Homo sapiens: one gene and its partner. Each later gene encodes a partner of the first gene's protein in a complex. Each region holds a gene or a part of one and is shown on either strand. Other genes may lie near its edges. A codon is read from its position in the direction of its gene.

Region 1 (9,854 bases):
ATACGGTTTTCTGGGGTTTTTTGGAAGCACTTAGGCTTAGAAGTTTCTCAAGAAGGCCAGGCGCGGTGGCTCATGCCTGTAATCCCAGCACTTTGGGAGGCCAAGGTGGGTAGATCATTTGAGGTCAGGAGTTTGAAACCATCCTGGCCAACGTGGTGAAACTCCGTCTCTACTAAAAATACAAAAGTTAGCCGGGTGCGATGGCGCCTACCTGTAATCCCAGCTACTCGGGAGGCTGAGGCAGGAGAATTGCTTGAACCTGGGGGCAGAGGTTGCAGTGAGCCGAGATCATGCCACTGCACTCCAGCCTGGGCGACAAGAGTGAGACTGTCTCCAAAAAAAAAAAAAAAAAAGACGTTTCTCAAGAAATTATCTTGTCTTAGCCAGGCTTGAGTGCTCATGCTAGTAATACCAGCACTTTGGGAGGCCAAGGTGGGAGGATTGCATGAGCCAGGAGTTGAAACCAGCCTGATCAACAAGAGACTGACGCCATCTCTACCAAAAAAAAAAAATTTAAAACAGGTGTGGTGGTACACGCTTGTAGTCCCAGCTTCTTGGAGGCTGAGGCAGGAGGCTTGCTTGAGCCCGGGGGTTTGAGGCTGCAGTGAGCCATGATGATGCCACTGTACTCCAGCCTGGGTAACAGAGCGAGACTCTTGTCTTGAAAACAAGGAAAGAAATTATCTTACAGAGTCTCGAGGAAGAGAGATACAGCAGTGTCTTCGAATAGTATGGGAAGCATCCCTGTTTTAGGGCTTCAGTCTGACTCTTGGCCATTGTTTCTCACTGTTGCCATTTCAAACAGGGCATTTCTTTACTGTCCATACATGGGAAGAATTTTGAACATCCGAGACCCTAAGTATCCGAGACTGCTGCCAACACACACACACACCTTCCTCCCCTCGTCTCCCTCCCTGTCATCGTGGCAACCAAAATTATCCATAGGGTGACGGACAATACCACCTCTGATTAAGAACCAGTATTCTAGGGTTTCTGGGGTTTCCATTTCTGAGAACAGTTCCATGCCAGAGCATTGTTTTGGTCAAGGAAGCGTAGGGTTTATGGATGCTAAACAGTGGGAAGGTGCACACGCAGTGTGCTGTCCCGCTTGGATCTGACGAATCTTGGAAGTGTTAGTGCACCTCCGTTTCACACTTCCTGTAGAAGCAGCTCTTGTGGATTGTCTGGGGCGTGAGTATAGGCTGTCCTGTCCTACCAAGTTACACCCTTTCCATTGAGGCAGAAGTGACCAAGGGGAAGGGATCCTTGTAATATAACCCACACCATCCCCACAGTGTGAACGTGGCATCACTGACACAATCAGAAATTCGAGACATCATCCTGGGTATGGAGATCTCGGCACCGTCACAGCAGCGGCAGCAGATCGCTGAGATCGAGAAGCAGACCAAGGAACAATCGCAGCTGACGGCAACACAGACTCGCACTGTCAACAAGCATGGCGATGAGATCATCACCTCCACCACCAGCAACTATGAGACCCAGACTTTCTCATCCAAGACTGAGTGGAGGGTCAGGTACTGTCGGGCAAGAGGGTGGGGATGGAAAGGCCGGCTGCACTACCTAAGGTGCTGGGCTGAGCGATGCTGACACTCCCTGCCTGTTTTTAGGGCCATCTCTGCTGCCAACCTGCACCTAAGGACCAATCACATCTATGTTTCATCTGACGACATCAAGGAGACTGGCTACACCTACATCCTTCCCAAGAATGTGCTTAAGAAGTTCATCTGCATATCTGACCTTCGGGCCCAAGTGAGTAAGTGGACTCAGCTAGGCCACAGTGTGTGCCCAACTCATTTTGTGCCTAAAACTCAGACCTGAGATTGTCTGGAACTTGAGATGCTGGTTTCAAGATTCATGGATGAGTAATTATACAAGGATAGCCAAAACAACGAGGTGGGTTTTGGCCCCATGAGATAGCAAAAGCTGTGGCAGCTGAGAGAAGGTAGTAATTGTAGTATTGGCCTGATAGTATTTGGAAGAGAACAGATATGGTCAGAAACAAATTCCTGACCAGGTGTGCGTGCTGGCTCATGCCTGTAATCCCAACACTCGGCTGGGCACAGTGGCTAATGCCTATAATCCCAGCACTTTGGGAGGCCTAGGTGGGTGGATCACCTGAGGTCAGGGGTTTGAGACCAGCCTGACCAATATGGTGAAACCCTGTCTCTACTAAAAATACAAAAAATTAGCCAGGCATGGTGGCATGCGCCCGTAGTTGCAGCTACTAGGGAGGTTGAGACAGGAGAATTGCTTGAACCCGGGAGGTGAGGTGGAGCTTGCAGTGAGCCAAGATTGCATCACTGCACTCCAGCCTGGGCAACAGAGCAAGACCCCGTCTAAAAAAACAAAACCAAAAAAAACGTGGCTGTAGTCCCAGCTACTCAGGAGGATGAGGTTGCTTGAACGCAAGCAGTGAGCTTTGATGACCCCACTGCACTCCAGGCTGGGCACAGTGGCTCATGACTGTAATCCCAGCACTGTGGGAGGCCGAGGTGGGCAGATCTTTTGAGCCCAGGAGTTCGAGACCAGCCTGGGCAACATGACGAAATGGAGTCTCTACAAAAAAAAAAAAAAAAAACTAGCCAGGCATGGTGGCATACACCTGTAATCTCAGCTACTCAGGAGGCTGAGGTGGGAGGATCACCTGATCCTGGAGGGTGGTGAGTGTAGTGAGCTGAGATCATGTCACTGCCTGCTAGCCTGGGTGACAGAGTGATACCCTGCTTCAAAAAAGAGAAAAGATGCATAACTTTACTAGTGTATCAGGGATATTATAGTTTATAAAACATCATTTTGGGCCAAGGTGGGTGAATCACTTGAGGTCAGGAGTTCAAGACCAGCTTGGCCAACGTGGCGAAACCCCGTCTCTCTTAAATATATGAAAATTAGCGGGGCATGGTGGCATGTGCCTGTAGTCCCAGCTACTCAGGAAGCTGAGGCAGGAGAATTGCTTGAACCCAGGAGGCGGAGGTCGCAGTGAGCTGAGATCACACCACTGCACTCCAGCCTTGCTGACAGAGTGAGACTCCATCTCAAACCCACTATTTAGTGGCTGTCAGGTTGGCAAATTTGAAAAGATTGTTAATATCCTGTGTGGGTGAGTTTATAGTAAACAGATCCTCTTTCTTTCTTGGTGATAATGTAAAACTTAAAATAGCACCAAGTGCTGGTTTTCCAGATGTTTTCAGCTTGTGAAAATACACTGAGCTGCATGTGTGCTCATTTGCTTGTGAATACTATGCTTAATAATCAGCTGGGGAGCTTGTGAGCAGTGCAGATTCCTGGACCCCACTCAGGAGATTCTGATGTGGTAAGTCCGCGATGAGGTCCATGTCTAACATTTTGAACAAGCACCCCAGCTGATTCTGATACAGGGGGTTCTGATCACGTTTTAAGAAACTCTGTCCTCGTTCTTGGGGGAAGGAAGGAAACAGAGGGCTGGCAGCTCCAACTCTGACCTGGTACTAAGAAGAGTTTTGGTTCCTGACCCCTTTGTCTCCAGATTGCAGGATACCTATATGGGGTGAGCCCACCAGATAACCCCCAGGTGAAGGAGATCCGCTGCATTGTGATGGTGCCGCAGTGGGGCACTCACCAGACCGTGCACCTGCCTGGCCAGCTGCCCCAGCATGAGTACCTCAAGGTAATGGGGAGTGATGGAGCCTGGGAGTGTGGAAAAGCTGGTGCGATTCCTGTCTGTGGATGGGATTCAGCTCTGTACTCCTCTTTACCTATAGGAGATGGAACCCTTAGGTTGGATCCACACTCAGCCCAATGAGTCCCCGCAGTTATCACCCCAGGATGTCACCACCCATGCCAAGATCATGGCTGACAACCCATCTTGGGATGGCGAGAAGACCATTATCATCACATGCAGGTGGGCCTGGGCTCCTTGGGAGGAAGTATGGTGGGGCAGGGATTGCAGGCCAGGGCCCAGAACAGTGGCCTGAGCTGTTACTCTGTCCTCGTTCCTCCCCCAGCTTCACGCCAGGCTCCTGTACACTGACGGCCTACAAGCTGACCCCCAGTGGCTACGAATGGGGCCGCCAGAACACAGACAAGGGCAACAACCCCAAGGGCTACCTGCCTTCACACTATGAGAGGGTGCAGATGCTGCTGTCGGACCGTTTCCTTGGCTTCTTCATGGTCCCTGCCCAGTCCTCGTGGAACTACAACTTCATGGGTAAGTGGGAGGAGCCTGGGGATGTGGGGATAGCAGTAGGGATAAGGTGAGGCCATCGCCCTTTGCACTTGGGGCCTGGCTGGCTTGGAGGTGGCGCAGGCTGCATGAGGCAGGAGCCCTGTTAACATTGGCTGTTTCCTTCTCCCCGAAGGTGTTCGGCATGACCCCAACATGAAATATGAGCTACAGCTGGCGAACCCCAAAGAGTTCTACCACGAGGTGCACAGGCCCTCTCACTTCCTCAACTTTGCTCTCCTGCAGGAGGGGGAGGTTTACTCTGCGGATCGGGAGGACCTGTATGCCTGACCGTTTCCCTGCCTCCTGCTTCAGCCTCCCGAGGCCGAAGCCTCAGCCCCTCCAGACAGGCCGCTGACATTCAGCAGTTTGGCCTCTTTCCCTCTGTCTGTGCTTGTGTTGTTGACCTCCTGATGGCTTGTCATCCTGAATAAAATATAATAATAAATTTTGTATAAATAGGAGTTCAGGGGCTGGTTTGTTTTTTTTTTCCCCCCCAAACTCAAATTCTGGATTTAGGTCTAACAGGAGGCTGGACTGGAGCGGTTCACAGCAAGATGCTGGGCTCGGCTGTGAAGGGGGGAGTATGAGGCCCCCTTCCTATTCAGGGCTTTGGGGTAGATAGCCCCTGGACTCAGTGGAGACCTGAGGCAGGGCTGGGCTTTCACACTCCGCTGCCTTGACCACATTTGCTGCTTTTTCCACAAAACTACTTGGAAGCTCTCGCCTCCTTTCCACAGTTTTGGGAGCAGTTGCCCTTTCCCGGGTCTAGGAACTCTGTGGCTTGTGCTGAGCGGCTGCGGTGTCCAGCCCAGCCCTTTAAGCTTTCTGTGTCAGTCCTGGTCAGGAAAACAAGCACACAGGCAGGCAGTTTGTGTACAGCCGGGCGGAGGCCAGAGACCGGCTGCCTACCTGTCACCTCTCGCCTGGAGCGGGCCACTGCCAAGTTGGCCCCATGACTCCAAACGGGCGGAGCCTGGATTGGGCCTGTGGGGAGGGCTCCACTCAAGTGACCACTTGCAGCCCTGAACCTCAGCTCTTGGACGCCTGGCTGGAAGTTGGCTGTCTTGTTTCCTGTGACCTTGGGGGTGGAAAGGACAGAGCCCAGGCGACCTAGGGCACTATCTCCCTACCCCACGCCTTCTCCCTTCCTCGTTCCTCCCTACCCTTATCGCTTCTACCCCGCCCACACCGCCCTAAACGGCTTCCTGGGGCGGAACTGTTTCGCTTTTCCCCGTCCCAGTGGAGGGTGGGGTGGGGGGGTCGCAGCCCTAAGCCTCTGGGAGACATGGAGCCCAGGAGGGCGGCGCCCGGGGTGCCTGGCTGGGGGTCTCGGGAGGCCGCGGGGTCGGCATCGGCCGCGGAGCTTGTGTACCATCTAGCCGGGGCCCTGGGCACTGAGCTGCAGGATCTGGCGCGCCGTTTCGGGCCGGAGGCGGCGGCCGGGCTGGTGCCGCTAGTGGTGCGGGCGCTGGAGCTCTTGGAACAGGCTGCCGTGGGGCCCGCCCCGGACTCGGTGAGTCATGGCCCTCCCTTCGCCACCCACGGGGCCGGCAGGGCCGAAGCCTGAGACCCGGGTCTCCCCAGCTGCAGGTGTCGGCGCAGCCGGCGGAGCAGGAGCTGCGGCGGCTGCGGGAGGAGAACGAGCGCCTCCGCAGGGAGCTGCGCGCGGGGCCACAGGGTAAGCGCAGCCCCGGCCAGGGCAGGGCGGGTGACGACCTGCTCGGGTCCTCCCCTCCCTCCCGCGGGCCGCGCGCCGCCGCCGCTAAGAACGCCCCTTCCTCAGAGGAGCGCGCGCTGCTGCGGCAGCTCAAGGAGGTCACGGACCGACAGCGGGACGAACTCCGGGCGCACAACCGCGACCTGCGGCAGCGCGGCCAGGAGACCGAGGCGGTGAGGGCGGGGCGGGGCTCTGGGGCGGGGCGGGGGCGGAGCGTGGCAGGCGCTGGGCGGGGCTCCGGGGGCGGGGGCGGAGCGAGGCAGGCGCTGGGCGGGGCTCCGGGGGGCCCTCGGTGCCCCGCCCACCCCACCCTTTGCTCCGCTCCCAGTTGCAGGAGCAGCTGCAGCGCCTCCTGCTGGTGAACGCTGAGCTGCGGCACAAGCTGGCGGCCATGCAGACCCAGCTGCGCGCCGCGCAGGACCGCGAGAGGGAGCGCCAGCAGCCTGGCGAAGCCGCGACTCCGCAGGCTAAAGAGCGAGCGCGGGGGCAGGCCGGGCGGCCCGGGCACCAGCACGGACAGGAGCCCGAATGGGCGACCGCCGGCGCAGGCGCCCCAGGGAACCCTGAGGACCCGGTGAGTGCCGTATGAGGGCAAGGACCCAGCCCAGGACGCAGCGTCCAGCCCTCGGTGGGCACTCAAGCAAGGTTTGCATGCTGCACAGCAGGTCGGCCAGGAAGCGGGGAGGTGGCAGACAGATCTGCGCCCCCGGCCGGCCTCGGCCCCCGCTCTCAGCTGGAGCACTGCTCTGTTATCTGTTAGGGCACCCTTGTCCCCCAAGTCTCCCGGCCCGTCACTTCCTCTAGCATTCCCATGATGGCCCTGGGGCGGGGGAACGCCAGCCGAGGCGACCCTCTGACTGTGCCTGTCCTTCCAAAGGCGGAGGCCGCGCAGCAGCTCGGGCGCCCCTCGGAGGCAGGGCAGTGCCGCTTCAGTCGGGAGGAGTTTGAGCAGATCCTTCAGGAGCGGAATGAACTCAAAGCCAAAGTGTTCCTGCTCAAGGAGGAACTGGCCTACTTCCAGCGGTGAGGACGCTGGGAAGCCGGGGGGCCTCCGATCACCCCACCTCATTCTCCAGTCATTGACATGTCCACAGTGACATGTGCCAGGCCTGCGCTGGGAACTGGGAGGACATGAATTGTACAGCCCTTGCCCTCCTGCAATGTCATCCAGACAGGGGAGAGGGACAGTACAAAGGGTTGCAGCTGCAGCAGCCAGGGAATCTCTCCTAGGAGGGGGCCACGGGGCCACCTAATTTAAGGTCTGAGGGTGTCAGCAAGGCAGAGCGCTTCCCGTGTTCAGGGAAGAGCTGCGTGCACAGGTACCAGGAGTGAGGACTGCGGCTGGCATCTCCACTGCTGGCATCCCCATGGCTGGCATCACCAGGGCTTTCTCCCTCCCTGCCCCTTTTCTTTAGGGAGCTGCTCACAGACCACCGGGTCCCCGGCCTTCTGCTCGAGGCCATGAAGGTGGCTGTCCGGAAGCAGCGGAAGAAGATCAAGGCCAAGATGTTAGGGACACCAGAGGAAGCAGAGAGCAGGTAGGTCCCTGCCTGCATTCCCACGGAGCCAGGCCTCCCTCCCTCATTCTGCTGAGCCTGATGACCCAGCCTGGTCACCCTCTGAGCCCATTGTCTCAGACTGAGGCTGTCACCCCAACCCGGTCACCCCTTGAGCCTCCCTAGCCTGGCCGCTTCTAGGGCCTGCTGACCTGCTCTGGCTGTGTCCCATGGCCGCTGTCCAGCCTGCGCCCTTCTCCCTGGATCTCACCACTCCCCTTGCCTTGCCTGCCATCCATTCTGCCTGACAACACTGCCTCTCCACATTCATTCTTCAAGTTCCTGTCTTGGCTGGGTCTGTTTATTCTTACGGGGGTGAAACTGTAGCCGCGGCTGTGTCAGGGCCTGCTGTGTGTCAAGCTATAAAATAAACCCTTGGCAGGGCGCGGTGGCTCACGCCTGTAATCCCAGCACTTTGAGAGGCTAAGGTGGGTAGATCACCTGAGGTCAGGAGTTCGAGACCAGCGTGGCCAACATGGTGAAACTCCGTCTCTACTAAAAATACAAAAATTAGCCGGGCATGGTGGCATGTGCCTATAATCCCAGCTACTCAGGAGGCTGCGGCAGGAGAATCGCTTGAACTTGGGAGGCGGAGGTTGCAGTGAGCTGAGATCGCACCACTGCACTCCAGCCTGGGCGACAGAGTGAGACCCTGTCTCAAAAAAAAAAAAATTAAAAATTAAAGGCTCGACATCCTGCATCTCCCCAGGGTTGCCTTCTCTCCAGCCCCGGGGGCCCTGCAGTCCCTCCATCCCCCCTGCTGGATTCCTGTTGTCCCTCAGGGCCTTGATCAATGGCCCTCACTTCTCCTCTCTCCTCTGTCTCAGTGAGGATGAGGCTGGCCCATGGATCCTGCTCTCCGATGACAAGGGAGACCATCCCCCACCCCCGGAGTCCAAAATACAGAGTTTGTATGTTGGGGAAAGGGGAAAGGCAAGAGTGTGGGGAGGGAGGAAGGGCCCTGGCTGGTCCTTCTCAGGATCCCCTTTCCCGCTTCTCTGCCCGTCACCCTGCTGTGCTTGGCTCTAAGCACACCGTCCCCTCCTGCTTCTCTGGCCCTGGCCCCCATCACCTTCACACTCCCTCAGGCTGCCCTTTCTTCCCCCTCTCCCCTTTTCTCACCATCCCCTGCCCTCACCCATATCCTTGACCTCTCTGGCTTCCTGGCTCAAAGTGCCTCTGGCTGTCTCTCTCCAGCTTTGGCCTATGGTATCGGGGTAAAGCTGAATCCTCTGAGGATGAGACCAGCAGCCCTGCACCCAGCAAGCTAGGGGGAGAAGAGGAGGCCCAACCACAGTCTCCAGCTCCTGATCCGCCCTGTTCTGCCCTCCACGAACACCTTTGTCTGGGGGCCTCAGCCGCCCCAGAGGCCTGACTTAGGGGTCTGGCTGTGGAAGGATGTGTGGCCTCAAATGAGGACAGGGCTCCCGCCTTCACAGCCCTCGCCAGGGGTCTGCCCCAATCCTGGCCTGCATCAGGGCAGGACGGGGTCTCAGCCCGCCTCCCTCTCTACGTCTCTGTACCGAGCCTCTGGGGCCAGATATAAGAGTGCCTCTCTGAGTCTCAGTTTCCCCATCCATGAAATGAGAGCTGACTGCCTAGCTCCCAGGGCTTTGTGCAGACGGCCTGAGCTCATGTAATAAAGAACTGCCCGTAATACACAGAAACTGTTCCTCGCCTGTCTGTCCATGTCTGTGCCACCTCCCAACCCTGCCAGGAGCAGAGGCAGGCTGAGGGGTCCTCGCTGGTCTCCTTGCTCAGTCACTGGGTGGGGTGGCTTCTTGCAGCTCAGGCCTTGCTTTGGGAGTGTGGCCTGATGGAAAGCCGTGGCTCCCAGCCTCAGTCCACCCCCTTCCCTGGCCCCGGCACCCAGGGACCTGCAACTTCATTCTTCTGGCCCTTCCAGGCCCAGGCCAGTCAGCCCTGCCATTGCCTTTCTTTCCCTTTCTTTTTTTGAGTGTCAGTCTTTCCAGCCACCCCCTCCCTCTCAGGGAGGTGCCTCGTGGCAGCCCGCCCCTCCGGCCTGGTTTCCTCAGGAAAAGCCCTGAGAGGAAGCAGGGAGGGGGTTGGGAGCTGTGGGGGCCAGACGAACCCGAGCGCTCCCACCGAGCTGCCTGCCATGGGGCTGGGGCTGCTGCTCCCGCTGCTGCTGCTCTGGACTCGGGGGACTCAGGGGTCCGAGCTGGACCCCAAAGGGCAGCACGTCTGTGTGGCCAGCAGGTGGGTCTCGTGGGAGTCTGATGCGTGTGGCCAGCAGGTGGGTCTCGTGGGAGTCTGATGCGGGTGGCTGAACCGGTGTTGAGGCCGTTAGGGGAAGGAGGAGACTAGGAAGGGGGCTTAGGCTGAAAGGAAGGGACTG
Region 2 (9,300 bases), on another chromosome or scaffold:
TTCTGCATCTGGTTTTATCATGTAACAATATCTCTTGGAGATCCTTCCATACCAATATATAGAGAATTATCTTATTGCTTTTTTATAGTTGCACAGTATTTCATTGTCAAGATGTACCATACCTTTTTTACCAGTTCCCTATTGATAGAAATTTGAATGAAAATTGTGCAGGGACGTGTGTGTGTGTGTACGTTTGTACATTGTGTACCACACTAAGTAGTAAGGCTCTTGATATCAATGGCCTTGTTTTCCTTGTGTCCTTAGAACCTAACAAAAAGCCTAGCATATAGGAGATTCTCAGTAAATCGTTTGTTGAAAGAAGGATGTACTTGTCCACTTTCTCCATGGGCAATCCTGTTAACACCCGTTACTTTCATTTCCATCTACTCTTAAATTTCTATTTTCAGCTGAGGCTACCCTGAAGGACCCAGAAACCCAACTCCCATCTCTGCCTCAGCCCAAAATGTCTAACTGCCTCCTCCCCATCTCCACTTGGATGTTTCACGGAAGTCCTCTGTCTCAGCATTTCCAGAACTGAACTTCTCACTCCTAATCTCCTCCAACATACCTGCTGTGCTTTGGATATGATGTGTTCGTGCCCCCAAAATCTTATATTGAAATGTGATCCCAGGCCAGGTGCAATGGCTCACACCTGTAATCCCAGCACTTTAGGAGGCTGAGGAGAGCAGATTACTTGAACTCAGGAGTTTGAGCCCAGCCTGTCCAACACGGCGAACCCCGTCTCTACTAAAAATTCAAAAATTAGCTGGGCATGGTGGCAGGTGCCTGTAATCCCAGTCACTCGGGAGGCTGAGGCACAATAATCACTTGAACCTCATAGATGGAGGTTGCAGTGAGCCAAGATTGCTCCACTGCACTCCAGCCTGGGCAACAAAGCGAGACTCTGCCCCCTCCAAAAAAAAAAAAAGAAATGTGATCCAGGCAGGCTGAGAGTGGTGGCTCTCACGCCTGTAATCCCAGCACTTTGGGAGGCTGAGGGGGGCAGATCACTTGAGGCCAGAAGTTCAATATGGGCCTGGCCAACTTGGTGAAACTCCATCTCTACTAAAAATACAAAAATTATTTGGGCATGGTGGTGCACGCCTGTACTTCCAGCTGCTCGGGTGGCTGAGGCACGAGAATTGCTTGAACCCAGTGGGTGGAGGCTGCAATGAGCTGATAGCACCTCTGCACTCCAGCCTAGGCGACAGAGCAAAACTCTGTCTCAAAAAAAAAAAAAAAAAAAAGAAATGTGATTCCTCAGTGTGGAGATTTGGGAGGTGGGGCCTAGTTGGGGGTATTTGAGTTGTGGGGGGGTTCCCTCATGAATAGTTTGGTGCCATTCTAGGTAGTGAGTGAGTGAGTGAGTTCTGGCTCTGGTGAGGCTGGATGAGTTCTCACAGGAATTGATTAGTTCCCAAGAGAGTAGGTTGTGCTAAAGCCAAGATGTCCCTTGGATTTGGGCTGGGATTTCAGGCACGTGCCACAGCGCCCGGCTAATTTTTGTATTTTTAGTAGAGACGGGGTTTCACCATGTTGGTCAGGCTGGTAAAGACCAAAACACTTCTAATATTAAATATTAAAGTAAATGTGAACTATATATATATTTAAGACAGATTAATGAAAATGAGCAAGATAATTATTTATCCAATTATTCCATCTCAGGGTCACAGGTGGCCAGTCTATCCTGGCAGCTCAGGACAGGAACCAACCCTGCACAGGATGCCAGCCCATTGTGTACACGTGTGCGCACGTGCACACACACACACACACACACACACAGAGACTGGGACAATTCAGACAAGCCAATTCACCTAAAGGGCACATCTTTGGGATGTGGGAGGAAACCAGAGGAACCAAGGAAAACTCAGACATGGGGAAAGAGTGTAAACTACACAGACAGGGGCCCCAGCCAGGAATCAATTTTTTCTCATCAATGTTATAATTGAAATGATGTTACTGGAGGCCCTGCTCTACTTAACTCCCCCAAGAACCCTAAAAGTCTCAATCCCAATACATCACTGGCTCATAATGGATCTTGCCATGTAAATTGGGTCCAGATGTGGATGAGGTTCCTCAGATATAATTCCTTAAGAACGGCTCTGAGCACTGTTCCTCTGAAGGCCTGTGAGCTAGAGATGTTATCTGCTGTCCACGGACCCAGCATACAGAGTTGGCAAGAAGAAGATAAGCATAGTAGACACTTTTGTTCAAAAGGGGAAAAAACAGGAGCGACAGCTGCCACTGGGTCATAGTAATTCTGAAATCAGCGAGGCACGTGATGCCAGTTCCTTGATTCGAGTCCCCTCCTGCTCCTTGGGAATGATTATCTGCAGCTCCTGGCTCTATCCTCTTGGCTCATGGGTTTCTTCTAAGTTGTCCTTTCTTTCCCATAGGAAATAGTCCATGTTTGCATCTGAATAGCCTTCTCAGAAGGCTTCTTAGAAGGCTGGGGCCCACATGTCCCATTTTATTTTTGTGCTCTGCCTTTTCTGGTATAATTGTCCCTTGCTATTTGTGGTGGATTGGTTCTAGGACTCAGATGCTCAAATCCTGCAGTCAGCCCTGCCAAACCTGGGGATGAGGACTACTGCATTCCCAGTTGCTACTTTACCTTCAAACCTAGCATTTTGATTGGCTGCCTAACGGGGTGGAATTATCATAACTCTTGGCCTTTGAAACTATTTTCAGTTTTCATTCCCCTGAATACTCTGCAAATTGTACACATTGAGCACCTACTGTACCCCAACACTGTTTCAAGAATCAGGGATATCGCAGTGAATGAGACAGACAAAAATAGCTGCCTTGTGGAGCTGCCATTCTAGTGGGGAAGACAGACAATATGCAAATAAGTGAGTAGTATAAGAGGAAAAACTTTGGGAGGCTGAGTCGGGAGGATTACTTGACACCATTACTTGACACCAGGAGTTCAAGACTGCCTGGGTAACATAGTGAAAACTTCTCTTTACAAAAAAAAAAAAAAAATTAGCCAGCCATAGTGGTGCACGCCTGTGGTCTCAGCTACTCAGGAGGCTGAGACAGGAGGATCACTTGAGCCCAGAAGTTCAAGGCTGCAGTAAGCCCTGATTATGCCACTGCACTCCAGCATGGGCAACAGAGCAAGAACTTTTCTCAAAAAAAAAAAAAAGAAAAAGAAAATAAAAAAGAAAAAACAGAGGAGAAAAGCAGTAGGGAGATGTCAATTTTTGTGTTTGTATTGTGGTGACAGGGAGAGGGACTTCAGTTTTAAATAGGGAAGGCTATTTCACTGAAAAGGTTACTTTAAAGTCAAGACCAGAGGAAAGTGAGGGAGTGGCCAAGCAGATACCTGGAGGAAGAGCTTTCCAGGTAGAGAGAAGTACAACTGCAGAGGTCTGATGTAGATGTGTGCCTTCTCTTTTCTTTTTTGTTTATCTTTTGGAAGAGACAGTCTTGTTATGTTGCCCAAGCTGGTCTTGAACTCCTGGGCACATGCAAAGTGAAAGCAGAGAAAGAGTGGACTTACCCCAGAGGCGGATGGTTCTGCAGTGTGCAAGGCCATTTCAGAATACACATAGAGAAAACAGGAGAATAGGTGGTGAGGGTTTTGGGGAAAGAGCCAATTTTGGTTGAAAAAGTAGGGGAAACCCCAGACATTGTACCATCTCAGGGTTGAGACTGCTTGCCTAGCTTTTGAGATTTTTTTTTTCCCCAGACCCCTCAACTCCTGAGATCTTATCGGGAAGCTGCTGATCACCAGTTTTAGGTGTTTTTATCTATTGGGAGACTGCCTTTCTCTGGTCTGGCTGCAACCAATTATTATTTTAGAGAGACAGCTTAACCTGACAACCACGTCATGGTTGCCTCACATTGCTGGTCGGGGAGTGGCCCCTCTCCTGCCCTGCTCAGGTCTGACTACTTACTGTAACAATTGCAAGGTTTTTGGATGGAACAATTGAAAGAATGGAGCTTGCATGAACCAAAATAAGAAAAGACTATGAGAGGGCATTGTTGAAGATGGAGGCAAAAATTCTGAGTGGATCCTGATGTGTTCGGATGGGGCTGGTGCTTGGGAGGCTGCTCTGTGCTTACAAGAAGAGTTCTACCCGGTCCATCTTTATCACATCTTCTCTAATACTAAGTTCAGAGAGGCTTTAGCTCATTTTCCATTTTCTTGGGCTGTCTCCTCTGCCAGACAAAGTGCCTATTTCTCCTGTCTCTATCACCGAGCCACACAATTGCTGTAGTCATTTGCAGTCTACTAGAACGATAACACATATTGGCATCAGACAGATCTTGGTTCAAAACCTCGCTCCACCAGTTTCTGTGTTGAGCTAGACCAAGTGACATGATATACTGAGTCTCAGTTCCTTATTTGTAAAATGGTGATAATAATTTTTGGTTAAGTAATTAAAGTAAGGATAAATGATGCCTTTCGAAGAAGGACACAACTGGAATGGCCAGTTTACCCCTTGTCCCCTCTTCGGTGGCATTATTTATTCTGGAGTAAGGAGGGATGGCTGAGGGAATCTGTCTGTGGGTCCAACATGGCGCCGTCCTGCTCCTTGTATGAGCCTCAAAGATGGGGACAACCATTTGGGGGCAGACATGTTTGTAGCACGAGATCCAGGCTCAGTCCCGAGGCAGCCGGAACGTGACGCAAGGTTGAGGCGGGGCTCCTCCCCCGCACCCTGGCGTCGAGCGTCTCGTGACAGGTACTTCCGCTCGGGGCGGCGGCGGTGGCGGAAGTGGGAGCGGGCCTGGAGTCTTGGCCATAAAGCCTGAGGCGGCGGCAGCGGCGGAGTTGGCGGCTTGGAGAGCTCGGGAGAGTTCCCTGGAACCAGAACTTGGACCTTCTCGCTTCTGTCCTCCGTTTAGTCTCCTCCTCGGCGGGAGCCCTCGCGACGCGCCCGGCCCGGAGCCCCCAGCGCAGCGGCCGCGGTAAGCAGCGGGCCCAGCCCGGCCGGCGGCCTGGCCCCATCCCCCCCCTCAGCCCCTCGGTCGCCAGGGCCTCGCGTCCTCCCTGTCCTCCTGGGCAGGCTCCAGTCCCAGCCCTGGCCACGCGGGCACACCCGGCATCGCTCAGGCCCCCGGAGCAGGCCAAGACCCCACCCGGCTTGGAGAGGTCGGAGGTCGTCGGGCGTGACCTCTGGCCGGGTTGCCCGCCCCGGCCACCCGTCTCGGACGCTCTGTTTACTGTTGGCCTGGATCTCAGAGACCCGAGAGGGTTCCTTGACTTGGGCGGCCCTGCGCCGCGGCAGGACGCGCTGGCCAGTGGAGTTCCTTAGCGCGGCGAGCAGGAGGGTGTCAGAGCCCACGCCGCCCGCCGCCGTGCCCACCCGGCGGGCATGGGTCACAGGCGCTGGGGGCCGAGCCGCGTTCCCATCCGGTTCTTCAGTTGAACAGCCTGACCCTGTTAGTGGGAGTTCCCTGACGGCAACTGAGTCAAGGCAGTGAGTCAGGTCACGTGCGCTGGGCTCGCCTCGACACTTGTGTACATTGAGGCGCCTCTGGCGCTGGGAGACAGGGAGCTTTTTGTCCTAGGCATGTTACGGTAAATCCTGAGAGAAGTTTTTCAACTTAATCGAGGAAAGATGGTAGTTGGATGTAGAGTTGTGTTTCCATTCCGACCGTGTTTGGGGCCTCTTTCTGCATTCATTTTAGGCTTGATACCTAATGGGGTCATAAGGGGAATATTGAGAATATTGACAGCAAATATTTGAGCGTTTATTGTATGCTAGGCAGCGTGGCAAGACCTTTTAACAGATCATTATGTTTAGTTCTTTGAACAACCCTCTGAAGTACCACTGTTGTGCCCACTTAACACAGTGGGAAGTTGAACAGAGAGGCTAAGCCATTTGGCCAAGGTCACACAGCTAATAAGTTACGAAGCAGAGATGCAAGCCCAGGCAGTCAGACTCCAGAGCACTGTATTAAATTTCTAGGTTGTACTGCTTTCACGTACCCCTGAAGCTTGCTGGTTTATCTTTTGCTACCTGGTATCTGTACCTCAGTGCCTCCCACCACCTCCTTTCTTTCTATTGATGTCATTTGAAAGTCTTTCTGGTAGCATCAGTTCTCCCTTAAAGCCATAAGAAATGCCGTTTGCGACTTATCACACATATTGTGGTGTAGTGTCACCGAATTAGGAGCTCTTGAATACCGGCAGGGTACTTAACTGAGGTTTGAAAAATTTTGCAGGTAGGCCTGGCAAACCTGCCTAGTGAACCTTTCTTACAACCTTAGTTGATGGCTGTCCAGCCGGCTGGTTCTTCCCTATTCAAAATACTGCATCTTTGGTTTCCTAAAGAACGGACTCTTGTCTCTTTCTTGTGACTTAAGCAGCTGATGAAGCACATGATTTCTCATCCATGGATGAATAAAGTCTCCTCTTAGTGTGTTTCTCTCTTCAAACTTGGGAAGGTTTGTTCAGATTTGAGTTTAAGGACTGGAAGGTGAGTTAGGAGTACTTCTTCTGAAGAAGGGACCGGCTAAGTTAAAGCTTAGCGTTCACAATCCTGTTGTATTCATATTTGTCTTTTTTTTTTTTAACTTTGCTACCTAGCCTAAAATATTTAAGTGAGTAATAAGTACTGTGGCTTTATATAATGTTTGAGTTTAGAGTAATGATAGGCACCTTTTTATTCATTCATTAAGTATTTTGAGTATCCATTGAGTATCAGCAATGTATCAGGCATTGTGGGACATTGACTCAGGGAGATAGGCGTGGTTCCTGTCCTCAAGGAATTTTTAAAAGGTGAATGATCTTGGCCAGAAATTCTGTTGTGGAATAATTTGGCGGTAGAACTTGAGGCTTTTTGGAAAGAGTTATTTCTCATCTCTGCTGGTGAATCAGTAGTAACCCAAAGGATGGTGTTCTTCTGGCTAACTTTAAGGCTTTGTTAATTTTAACAACAGCATTTGTATGGTTTGCTCTTCAGAGAGTGTAGAAGATAATATTACAGTTTCTAATTAATCACATCTTTTAAAGAGTAACCTTCAACACTCAACTTGTTTCTCCTTTTGCTCTAGTGGCATTTATTTTATTTTATTTATATTTTGAGACGGAGTTTCCCTCTTGTTGCCCAGGCTAGAGTGCAATAGCGCGATGTCGGCTCACTGCAACCTCTGCCTCCCGGGTTCAAGCCATTCTCCTGCCTCAGCCTCCCGAGTGGCTGGAATTACAGGCATGCGCCACCATGCCCAGCTAATCTTGTATTTTTAGTAGAGACAGGTTTTCTCCATGTTGGTCAGGCTGGTCTCGAACTGCCTACCTCAGGTGATCCGCCTGTCTCGGCCTCCGAAAAGTGCTGGGATTACAGGCATGAGCCACTGCGCCCGGCCGACTCTGGTAGCATTTTTTTGTTCACTCAAGAGGTAGTCCATGTCACTACTGTAATTACCTTGCACTGCCATGTCTTTGAGCAAAGGTACATTTGGCATGCTGGATTTTTTTCTTCAGCTGGCAAGAAAGTTTAATGTAGCACTGATAGTGTACTGGCCATAGTTTCAGTACCATTCTACATAGAAAAGCTGTGTTACCCTATCTCCCACAACTTTCTAGATTCCCTTCTTTAAGGGAAGATTTGGATTTTACATTTGTGGTAGAACTGCATAAGTAAACAGAGGGTGGAATGTAGAAGATAGTCTAAAAATAGTTTTATTAGTATATCCTTCTAGGTAGTTAGCAACCACTTGGGGCAATTTTTTTTAAAATTTTTTTTTAGTGCCAACTGTGTCTAAGCTCACCAACCCTGTAATCAGAGAACAACTCTTTATAGTAAAGTGTGGCTTTGAATCAGTTTTCTGACCCCACTGCCAAGTGAAGCCAAAAAATTTTGGTTATTTGATTAGCTTTTAATATGTCTTCAGCTGGGCACGGTGGCTCACGCCTGTAATCCCAGCACTTTGGGAGGCCGAGGCAGGTGGATCATGAGGTCAGGAGATCGAGACCATCCTGGCTAACACAGTGAAACCCCATCTCTACTAAAAATACAAAAAATTAGCCGGGCGTGGTGGCGGGCGCCTGTAGTCCCAGCTACTCGTGAGGCTGAGGCAGGAGAATGGCGTGAACCCAGGAGGCAGGGCTTGCAGTGAGCAGAGATCATGCCGCTGCACTCCAGCCTGGGCGACAGAGCGAGACTTCTTCTCAAAAAAAAAAAAAAAAAAAGTCTTCAAAGGGATCTTCACTAATAACGTTTTTGCTCTTACTTTGGCATTAGACTTTGTAAACAAAGATGTAGCAAACACAGACCACGCAAATATGACAGTTGTCTTATGCACATTCCTCTCTGGCATTTGACACAAATATTTTAGTTTTTCCTATGATAAAGTATTTATCTCCCCATTCATTTAATTCAACAAATACAGCTGAGATAGATTTGACCAGATGTTGGACTTGGAGCTGTAGGCAGGCTTTTCCTGGGGAGGTAAGGATTAGAAGTCCTCCTGAATAAGGCTAAACAGAGGTTCCCCTTGGCATTAAATGTCTTCTTCTGAAGGCGACTGAAACTCGAGAAATGAACTCCCCGCCTCCCCCCTTATTTTTTGGCTATTGGCTTGCTGTTGATGATTCTTACCTCTCATGTAAGGAAGGCTACCATTGTATTCTCAGGCATCCATTCCTTTGTGTTACCACATGCTTATCTGTTAATATTATCTAATAGTTCTCTATGCTTCTCTGTCTGCAGTTTGCTGCAGAAACATTTTTGCAATATGCTGATCTTTTCAGTTATTTGCTCTTAAATCTTCTATTCTGTTTTTCCCCACACTCCATATGGCATTAAAGACAGAAAAATAGTTTGTGTTTTAAAACTTTTTTTTTTTTTTTAGACGGAATCTTGCTTTGTAGCCCAGGCTGGAGTGCAGTGGTGCCATCTCAGCTCACTGCAAGCTCCACCTTCCAGATTCATGCCATTCTCCTGCCTCAGCCTCCCGAGTAGCTGGGACTACAGGCACCCACCACCACGCCCGGCTAATTTTTGTATTTTTAGTAGAGACGGGGTTTCACCGTGTTAGCCAGATTGGTCTTGATCTCCTGACCTCGTGATCCACCCGCCTCGGCCTCCCAAAGTGCTGGAATTACAGGCGTGAGCCACCATGCCCAGCCTAAAACTTATTTTTAAAACATTTCTTAATGGTGGTGGTCACTGCGATTTGTGAATCAGAGGTAAAAGTGATGTGGCGAGTGAAATCAAAACAAGTTTTTTAGCAGTGTCTGTTACCAGTTTCAATTTTAGTATCCCAGGCTGTGATTACAAAAACATATTTAAGAATAGCTACTTGCAAAATATCTCCTTGTGGGAGGAAGAAAGCTTGGGA

The links.
Region 2: the proteins of RILP (region 1) and RAB7A are in contact, whole or in part, in a crystal structure (PDB 1YHN), measured with the Homo sapiens proteins. Residues at the interface, in NP_113618.2 of Homo sapiens: Phe248 (codon at 6,883), Glu249 (codon at 6,886), Leu252 (codon at 6,895), Gln253 (codon at 6,898), Arg255 (codon at 6,904), Asn256 (codon at 6,907), Lys259 (codon at 6,916), Ala260 (codon at 6,919), Phe263 (codon at 6,928), Leu264 (codon at 6,931), Glu267 (codon at 6,940), Glu268 (codon at 6,943), Tyr271 (codon at 6,952), Arg274 (codon at 6,961), Glu275 (codon at 7,356); in NP_004628.4 of Homo sapiens: Ser3, Lys6, Leu8, Ile41, Gly42, Ala43, Asp44, Phe45, Leu46, Thr47, Thr58, Trp62, Ser72, Leu73, Val75, Leu182, Tyr183, Asn184, Glu185.

The regions. Positions count from the first base shown.
Region 1 is NC_000017.11:1,645,458-1,655,311, reverse strand, and holds RILP (rab-interacting lysosomal protein), read left to right. Parts: upstream 1-5,445; 5' UTR 5,446-5,507; coding exon 5,508-5,735; intron 5,736-5,806; coding exon 5,807-5,900; intron 5,901-6,005; coding exon 6,006-6,112; intron 6,113-6,267; coding exon 6,268-6,513; intron 6,514-6,816; coding exon 6,817-6,962; intron 6,963-7,354; coding exon 7,355-7,477; intron 7,478-8,322; coding exon 8,323-8,406; intron 8,407-8,692; coding exon 8,693-8,870; 3' UTR 8,871-9,162; downstream 9,163-9,854. Other genes in the region: PRPF8 (pre-mRNA-processing-splicing factor 8), read left to right, coding at 1,296-1,535, 1,629-1,770, 3,524-3,664, 3,759-3,898, 4,002-4,204, 4,356-4,510; SCARF1 (scavenger receptor class F member 1 isoform 1 precursor), read left to right, coding at 9,615-9,715. UniProt on the Homo sapiens protein: Rab effector playing a role in late endocytic transport to degradative compartments. Involved in the regulation of lysosomal morphology and distribution.
Region 2 is NC_000003.12:128,721,440-128,730,739, forward strand, and holds the start of RAB7A (ras-related protein Rab-7a), read left to right. Parts: upstream 1-4,743; 5' UTR 4,744-4,920; intron 4,921-9,300.